2 separate regions of the Homo sapiens genome follow, and region 1 is linked to region 2. Evidence: fine-mapped expression QTL. A gene starts in region 2. The other region holds a variant in brackets. All regions are shown on one strand. Distances are between the middles of the regions.

Region 1 (4,384 bases), 120 kb before region 2:
CAATTTGTACAGGTCCTAGTAACTTTGGGGAAAATTTTGGAAAAAAAAAAGTAGCATGTTTCAAAGGAACTTGATCTGATAAGAGGCAGAAATATTGACTCCATTATTTCAAGAGGCAGTTTCTTTGTTTCCCAGACGCTTCCTGACAGTTTTAAAAATAGCCTTCCACAACTGTTCCAGGATGAGAATGTCCTTTTACATAAAATGGGCTTTGAAGATGTGATTTCATTTACTCAGAGGAGGCTGTAGATCATTCGTCATCCTTTTCCAAAACATGGCTTGGACCGGGCAATGTGGGCCCTTGAATTCCAGTTGAACACCAGTCCAAACTGGGTTGTTGGATGCGGAGAAGATAAAGGGTACCCACAAAGAGGACACGGCTCGTTACAATCTGGGAGACAAAACGCAATGGGGTTGCAGTCAAAAGTTGCCTCTTGCGACCAGGTGTGGTGGCTCACGCCTGTAATCCCAGCACTTCGGGAGGCTGAGGCAGGTGGATCACCTGAGGTCAGGAGTTCGAGACCAGCCTGGGCAATATGGCAAAACTCCATCTCTACCAAAAAATACAGAAATTACCCGGGCATGGTGGTATGTGCCTGTAGTTCCAGCTCAAGAGGCTAAGGCAGGAGAATCGCTTGTACCCAGGATGTGAAGGCTGCAGTGAGCTGAGATCATGCCACTGCACTCCAGGCTGGCTGACAGAGCGAGACTCTGCCTCTAAAAGAAAAAAAAAAAAAGTTGCCTCTTTCGGATGGGTGTGTCGGCTCACCCCTGTCATCCCAGCACTTTGGGAGGCTGAGGCTGGAGGATTGCTTTAGGCCAGGAGTTTGAGACCAGCCTGGGCAACATAGCGAGACCCCATCTCTACAAAAAAAAAATTTAATTACCTGGGCATGGTGGTGCACACCTGTAGTCCCAGCTACTTGGGAGGCTGAGGTGGGAGGATCACTTGAGCCCAGGAGGTTGAGGATGCAGTGAACTATGATCGCAACCACCGCACTTCAGCCTGGGTGACAGAGTAAGGCCCTTTCTCTAAAAATAAAGAAACAAAAATAAAATGAAAGTTGCCTCTTGTCTGCTGTATTGGAGGTTTCTGTATCTGCTGATTCAACCAACCCTAGATCGAAACTACTTGAAAAGGGGCCGGGGGCGGTGGCTCACGCTTGTAATCCCAGCACTTTGGGAGGCCAAGGCGGGTGGATCACCTGAGGTTGGGAGTTCGAGACCAGCCTGGCCAACACAGTGAAACCCCGTCTCTACTAAAAGTATAAAAATTAGCCAGGCATGGTGGCGGGTGCCTGTAATCCCAGCTACTTGGGAGGCCAAGGCAGGAGAATCACTTGAACCCAGGAGGCAGAGGTTACAGTGAGCGGAGATTGCGCCACTGCACTCCAGCCTGGGTGACAAGAGAGAGACTCTGTCTCAAAAAAAAAAAAAAGAGGCAGGGCGCGGTGGCTCACGCCTCTAATCCCAGCACTTTGGGAGGCCAAGGCAGGCAGATCACGAGGTCAGGAGATCGAGACCATCTTGGCCAACATGGTGAAACCCCATCTCTACTAAAATACAAAAAATTAGCCGGGCATGGTGGCAGGTGCCTGTAATCCCAGCTATTTGGGAGGCTGAGGCAGGGGAATCGCTTGAACCCAGGAGGTGGAGGTTGCAGTGAGCTGAGATCGCGCCACTGCACTCCAGCCTGGAGACAGAGCAAGGCTCCATCTCAAAAAAAAAAAAAAAAAAAAAGAGAGAGAGAGAGAGAAAGAAACCATTTGAAAAAAAACAATCAAAAGTTGCCTCTTATGTGAAAGATCTGATGGCTAGGAGGGGTCATTGTTCATTTTCTCAGACGTGACCTTGGCATCGAGTATACGTTAGCATGTCAGTCGCCACACGTCTCAGTGACGTGCGCTTCAGGGCACGTGGGCGAAATGGCATCCTGACTCCAACTTGCTCTAAAGTGCTTCTCCAGAGCAAAGGAAGACAGCCATGCGGCAAAGGTGGAAAATCTGGATGACAGTTGACGCTGGGTGGGGGTGTTTACTGTCCTTTTCTCTTCAACTATTATGTTTGGAAATTTTCATCATACATTTGTTCCAATTGGATACTCTATTCTTCAGGAAAGGGCGTGAGTGTCCTTTGCCGTGGAAGAGACTGCCAATGGGAGAGGGGATGGATTTGTGGATTTGATGTTGATTATTTACACAGCAGGGGAGTGTGTGTGTGTGTGTGTGTGTGTGTAGCAGGGAAGGAAGGAAACAGGATTTGAGACTGGCTTCTAACTTTTTAAAGGGTCTGAGGACCTCTTTAAAAATCAGATGGAGGCTGGGCACAGTGGCTCACACCTGTCATCAGCAGCACTTTGGGAGGCCGAAGCGGGAGGGTCACTTGGGGCCAGGAGTTGGAGATCAGCCTGGCCAACATAGTGAGACCCTGTTTCTATAAAAATAAAAATAAAATAAAAATTAAAAAAAATTAGCCAGGGCCGGGCACGGTGGCTCATGCCTGTAATCCCAGCACTTTGGGAGGCTGAGGTGGGCAGATCAAGAGGTCAGTAGATCGAGACCATCCTGGCTAACACGGTGAAACCCCGTCTCTACTAAAAATACAAAAAAATTTGCTGGGCGTGGTGGCGGGCGCCTGTAGTCCCAGCTACTCAGGAGGCTGAGGCAGGAGAATGGCGTGAACCCGGGAGGC[G/A]GAGCTTGCAGTGAGCCGAGATCGTGCCACTGCCCTCCAGACTGGGTGACAGAGCGAGACTCCGTCTCAAAAAAAAAAAAAAAAAAAAAAAAAAAAAAAATTAGCCGGATGTGGTCAGCTACTCAGGAGGCTGAGGCAGGAGGATCACTTGAGCCCAGGAGTTCAAGGCTGCAGTGGGCTATGATTGCGCCATGCACTCCAGCCTGGGTGAGAGAGCGAGACCCCCATCTCTTAAAAAAGGGGAAAAAAAAAGATAAAAAGTTATGAACACTGCAAACCCACATACAATAAAAAACAAACCAGGGCTGGGTGCGGTGGCTCATGCCTGTAATCCCAGCACTTTGGGAGTCTGAAGCAGGCGAATCACGAGGTCAAGAGATCGAGACCATCCTAGCCAACATGGTGAAACCTCATCTCTAATAAAAATACAAAAATTAGCCAGGCATGGCGGCGTGTGCCTGTAGTCCCAGCTACTTGGGAGGCTGAGGCAGGAGAATCACTTGAACCCAGGAGGTAGAGGTTGCAGTGAGCTGAGATCACGCCACTGCACTCCAGCCTGGTGACAAAGCAAGACTCCGATTCAAAAAAAAAAAAAAAAAAAAAAGAACAAAAACAAAAAACCAGCAAATGTGCATTCAGGGGTTCACTGCTTTCCCTAAAAACGTCCCCTCCCCTGGGTAAGAGCTCCTAATTCAATACATGGTTTTCCATTTCTAAGATATCAAGAGCCATCACCTGCCTCTTCTGGGTACGGTGAATATGCAAATAAGCAGAAGACAACAAGAAACTAGAAACCCTGAAGTTTTCTAAGAAACCCTCAATTCTTTTCTCAAATCAGCAAAACGAGCCTCCGCCCCTGGCTGGCTTCGGAGCTCTGGGCAAATGACTGCAGGGAATGAGTCTCAGTTTTCCCTCAGGAAAATGGGCTAACATCCACCCTCTTCATTTACAAGGTTGCTTTGAGTTTCCAACAAGATAATGGAAGCTGAATCGCTGTGAAAATTGTGAAGTCCCAAACCAAATGGTGCCAAAGCTGTGACTACCCTGGAGAGAGGTGACTCAGCGCCTTCTCCAAAGGGATCTATCACGGCAGAAGCACATGGCTTGGGACCTTCAGATTCACTCTGGGGTTTTCCTGCAGGAGGAAGGAAGTATTGGGAATTGCCTCCGGCCATGACCACTTTCAGGAAGCTGCTCGTTTTTGCAGAGAAGATTAGGGGCATCTCAGAGGTTACAAAGCCCACGAGGCCCCACCAGGCCCCAATCCACAAAGCAGGCCCATTCCATGGGCACCAAGAAGACGTCCCCTCCCAACACCCTCATCTCCAGGACTGCAGGGACCCCTCGAGGGTCTGTAACCTGGAAAAGGGGGATTACCAAAGGTTTGGAATCTTTACATTCGCCCAAATCCACCATAAACTTCAGTTTATGGTTTATAGATGACCCTTGAACAACACAGGTTTGAACTGGGTGGGTTCAGTCATATGTGGATTTTCTTTGTTTTGAGCCCGAGTCTCACTCTTGTTGCCCAGGCTGGAGTGCAGTGGTGCGATCTCAGCCCACTGCAACCTCCGCCTCCCGGGTTCAAGTGACTCTCCTGCCTCAGCCTCCCTAATAGCTAGGATTACAGGCATCTGCCACGACACCCAGCTAATTTTTGTATTTTTAGTAGAGACGGGGTTTTACCATGTTG
Region 2 (4,384 bases):
GAGAAAACACACCCCTCCTCCCCTAGGCTAGCCCGCTGGGTTATCCACTTTGCTCACCTTCACCTGGCCATCTGCTTGCCAAGTGTGCTCTGTCACCTAAATCCAACCAGATCACAGCCACCTGCTGCAGGGTGCTTCCCTTTTGCCCCCAACCAAAAATTTTGGAATTATACCCTTGGTTCCCCCAGAGTTATCTGTGAACCCAAGTGATCTCCTGAGCTAGACAGTAAGGGCCTGGGAGGGCCATGCCTCACACCTGGGCCAACAGTAACCCATGGTGTAGATTTTCACTCGAGAGCAAGTGTAAAGAAGTGCTGACATTTCCAAACGAAGAAAACCAGGCCACGCCTTCATTCAACAAATGTATAGGGAAAGGAACAGGAAGAGGCTAAGAAGTCAGTGACCTGGCCAGGCGCAGTGGCTAACGCCTGTAATCCCAGCACTTTGGGAGGCCAAGGCGGGTGGATCACTCGAGTTCAGGAGTTTGACACGAGCCTCGCCAAAATGGTGAAACCCCGTCTCCACTAAAAAAAAAATACAAAAATTAGCCGGGTGTGGTAGCACGTGCCTGTAGTCCCAGCTACTCAGGAGGCTGAGGCAGGAGAATCACTTGAACTCGGGAGGCGGAGGTTACAGTGAGCTGAGATCATGCCACTGCACTCCACCCTGGGTGACAGAGCAATACTCCATCTCAAAAAAAAAAAAATTGGACAGGAAGTTTTAGAAAGATCCACGCCTCCCAAACTGGGAGTGCTTAGTGCTTTCTCATGAAATGATCTTAGGTGATTTTCCCCCGACTCCCGCCTTCCCCGCCCCCCACCCCCTGACTACATACTCTAAACTGTAGCACTTAGCTATTAACACCTATTATCGGTAGGACACTTAACAGTTTACAGAGCACTTTCATGTCAGTAACAAGAACTTGCTAATTAATAATCACCGGGTTTTAGCACTGTTAACTTAGTGACAGTGTTGCAAATTGGCTAGCTGTGCACTTCTCTCTCCTTGGATCAGCTAACCAGTCATGCAAGCATGCAACCGGCCTATCAACTCTCTTTGGGTTTGGAATTCTTAATTGCTGCGGTCTCTACTCCCAAACGTCCAAATCTGGCAGAGATTAAATGATGACAGTAATTATAGGATCACTGAGTGCCTCTCATATGCTAGGCACTGTTCTAAGCGCTTTTTCACGTGCTTAATTTTCACATAATCCCAACACATTTTTATATCTCCATTTTCCAAAGGAAGCAACTGATGGGTGGAATGGCTAAGAGCTTCAACCAAAGGCACAGAGAAATCGGGGCTGGAGCCAAGATTTGAACACATGATCTGACCCTGTGTCCTCACTCTTAATCACCATGCTGTGCTAGATCATTCTAGCAAAATGCTTATATGGTGCTTTGCACAACACAGGTATTCAGCAAATAAAGGCAGCTGTGATTAGCATAACACAGGTAGTTTCTAGTTCCCACGAGTGTCACCTCCAGGAAAGCAGCGACCTTGTCTGTCTGGAAGAATGCAGCGCTCCCAGCACCTGACCCAACGCACATTTGAGGGATGGATAGAAAATGAATGAATGAAAGTCTCTCCCAAATAACAGAGCTGCCTACGCATGGCTCTTTTTCGCATGTCTGTGTCGCGCTATCGATACTGCCCCTTCATAAGCGCATCAGGCGAATTTGAGGACACAGAGAGGCGCCCGGAGACGTACGATCTGCGCCCGGTGCAGGGGTGGCGGAAGCAGCTTCCAAGGAGGCAGGGGATCAGTCTGAGATCGCACTGCTGCTGACGGGTCCGGGCTCCGGCGGGACCCTGCCCGCCCGGGCGCCGGGACCGGAGGGAGACAAAGACTCGCTGGGCCGCCGCGCCGACAGAAACGCTCGCACCCCTCGCCCACCCCTCCGGGATGCAGCCCAGCGCCTCCGCGGGTCCCCGGCCTGGGAGCTTCAGCGGCGGCAGGGTCCGGGCCCTGGGCGGAGAGGACACGCGCTGCGCACCTCCTCGCCTCGCCGGTGCCCGCGAGGGTCGCTCGGGCACGGGAGGCCGCGGGTCCCGGCCTGTCACCTTCAGGGCCGCCTGCCCACCCGCCCGCCGCAAGCCCTTCAGCACGCGCCGCCCCCGCCGCCGCCTGGCTGAGTCTCCCAGCGCCTCAGCCTCGCCGCACCGCTCGCCTCGCGCCCCGCACCCCGGCGCCGCCCCCAGGCCCGCCCGGCCCGTACCTGCTGGGAGAGGGGGATGAGCGGCGCCGCCATCTTCCCGCGGACTCGGGCTCCGAGCGCCGGGGGAACGGGGGCGGGGCTGCAGCCACGCGTGCGCACTGGGACGACGGGAGGGCGGTGCGCAGGCCGCCTGTCCCGGGAGAGGGCGGGGCCGTAGACAGGGCCACGCATGTGCAGTCAGGCCGGGAGGGGCGGGGGCAGGGGCGGGGCCGCCCACACGCAGCCTGGAGGGGCTGGGCCTGAGGCATCTGCGTCTTCCGTGCTCTCTTGCCCGTTCCCCTACTCCTCCTTCCAACGTTGTTCGGACTCTCATGCCGCTGGCCGCTGTCCGAGTCGACCATGCTGTGTCATCCCTCCAGCCCATGCCGAGGCCTGGTTCTCTGTTAGGGATGCCGTCCCCCTGCCAGTGCGCCTGGGGAGGCGGTCGCCCACCCCGCGGAGGGTCGGGACCCTCACCCTGCCCCGCAAAGCGCCCTGTTCCTAGGATCGCAGTGTGTGTGTGTGTGTGTGTGTGTGTGTGTGCGCGCTAATTTGGGGGACCCGCACCCTGCCCCCCTCACCCTGCCCCGCAAGGCGTCCTCCTGGCTGTGGTGGCGGGCACCTGAAATCCAAGCTACTCAGGAGACTGAGGCAGGAGAATTGCTTGAGCCCAGGAAGCAGAGGTTTCAGTGAGCCAAGATCACACCATTGCAATCCAGCCTGGGCAACAGAAGCGAAACTCTGTCTCAAAAATAAATAAATAAATAAGACAAGAACCCACTTGTTGCCAGGTACAGTGGCTTACACCTGTAATCCCAGCACTTTGGGAGGCCGAGGTGGGAGGGTCATGAGGTCAGGAGTTGGAGACCAGCCTGGCCAGTATGGTGAAACATCAATATGGTGAAACCCCATCTCTACTAAAAAAAATACAAAAATTAGCAGGTGTGGTGGTGCATGCCTGTAGTCCCAGCTACTCAGGAGGCTGAGGCCAGAGAATCACTTGAACCCGGGAGGTGGAGGTTGCGGTGAGCCAAGATTGCACCACTGCACTCCAGCCTGGGTGACAGAGTGAGACTCTGTCTCAAAACAAAGTCAAAAACAAAAAGAACCCACTTGTAACTGTTGCTAATCAAAGCATACATTCAGGGCAACTTGAATCTGTGTCTCCTGGACTGCGGTCCTCAACCTTGGCCCAAACTCTCTACTTATATTAACTTTGCCTCAGCTTCTTTTGTTACATCAATAGAGTAATGAAGGTTTTTAACAGTCTTGAGTGCTTTATCAGTACGTATTCCATAAGGAAAAGAGAAGTCCTTCTAGGTACTTCAAACAGAGGATATTGAATACAGGGGATTGAGCCAGGCTCTGTGGCTCACACTTGTAATCCCAGCAATCCAGTTGAGACAGGTAGATTGATACCAGCCTGGCCAACATGGAGAAACCCCATCTTTACTAAAAATACAAAAATTAACCCAGTGCAGTGGCAGGTGCCTGTAATCCCAGCTACTCAGGAGGCTGAGGCAGGAGAATTGCTTGAACCTGGGAGGGGAAGGTTGCAATAAGCTGAGAACTCACCATTGCACTCCAACCTAGGTGACAGAGCGAGACTCTGTCTAAAAAATAAATAAATAAAAATAAATGAATACATAAACGACTACAGGGGACTGAGTATAAAAGTGTTGGAAGTACTGGAAGAACAAAAGAGGAAGGTAAGTTTACCTAAAGATTCATAACTATATGAGGCTGCTAGCCTCTCTAGAGCTGAAAGATTAAAGCAGGGGAGGTGGCTGGGCATAGTGGCTCACGCCTGTAATCCCAGCACTTTGGGAGGCCGAGGTGGATGGATCACCTGAGGTCAGAAGTTTGAGACCAGCCTGGCCAACATGATGAAATCCCGTGTCTACTAAAAATACAAAAATTAGCCGGTTGTGGTGGTGGGCACCTGTAATCCCAGCTACTCGGGAGGCTGAGGCAGGAGAATCACTTGAACCTGGGAGGCGGAGGTTGCAGTGAGCTGAGATCACGCCACTGCACTCCAGTTTGGGCAACAAGAGCGAAACTCCGTCTCAAAATAAATAAATAAATAAAGCACAGGAGGACCCATAACCCACAATCACTGTGCCTACAGAAGGATCCCAGATGTGTTCACCCTTGCTAGCCACAGTTGCCTCCACCATGATTGCGAA

The links. PIP is the estimated chance that this variant, and not a neighbour inherited with it, causes the effect.
Region 1: its variant is the best candidate, but not a certain one, in a credible set for the expression of EPS15L1 in whole blood (TOPMed, PIP 0.65).

Annotation. Positions count from the first base shown.
Region 1 is chr19:16,347,823-16,352,206 of GRCh38, forward strand. No RefSeq gene overlaps it. Among named protein-coding and RNA genes, the nearest start is that of KLF2, 25 kb to the left of the region's middle. The variant G/A (reference allele first, on the strand shown) is at 2,692.
Region 2 is chr19:16,469,694-16,474,077 of GRCh38, forward strand. EPS15L1 (epidermal growth factor receptor pathway substrate 15 like 1) reads right to left here and starts at 2,277. Exons shown (of 24, transcript NM_001258374.3): 1 at 2,220-2,277. The coding sequence starts at 2,252. RefSeq lists enhancers at 1,455-2,366, 1,599-1,748 and silencers at 1,829-2,048, 2,109-2,508.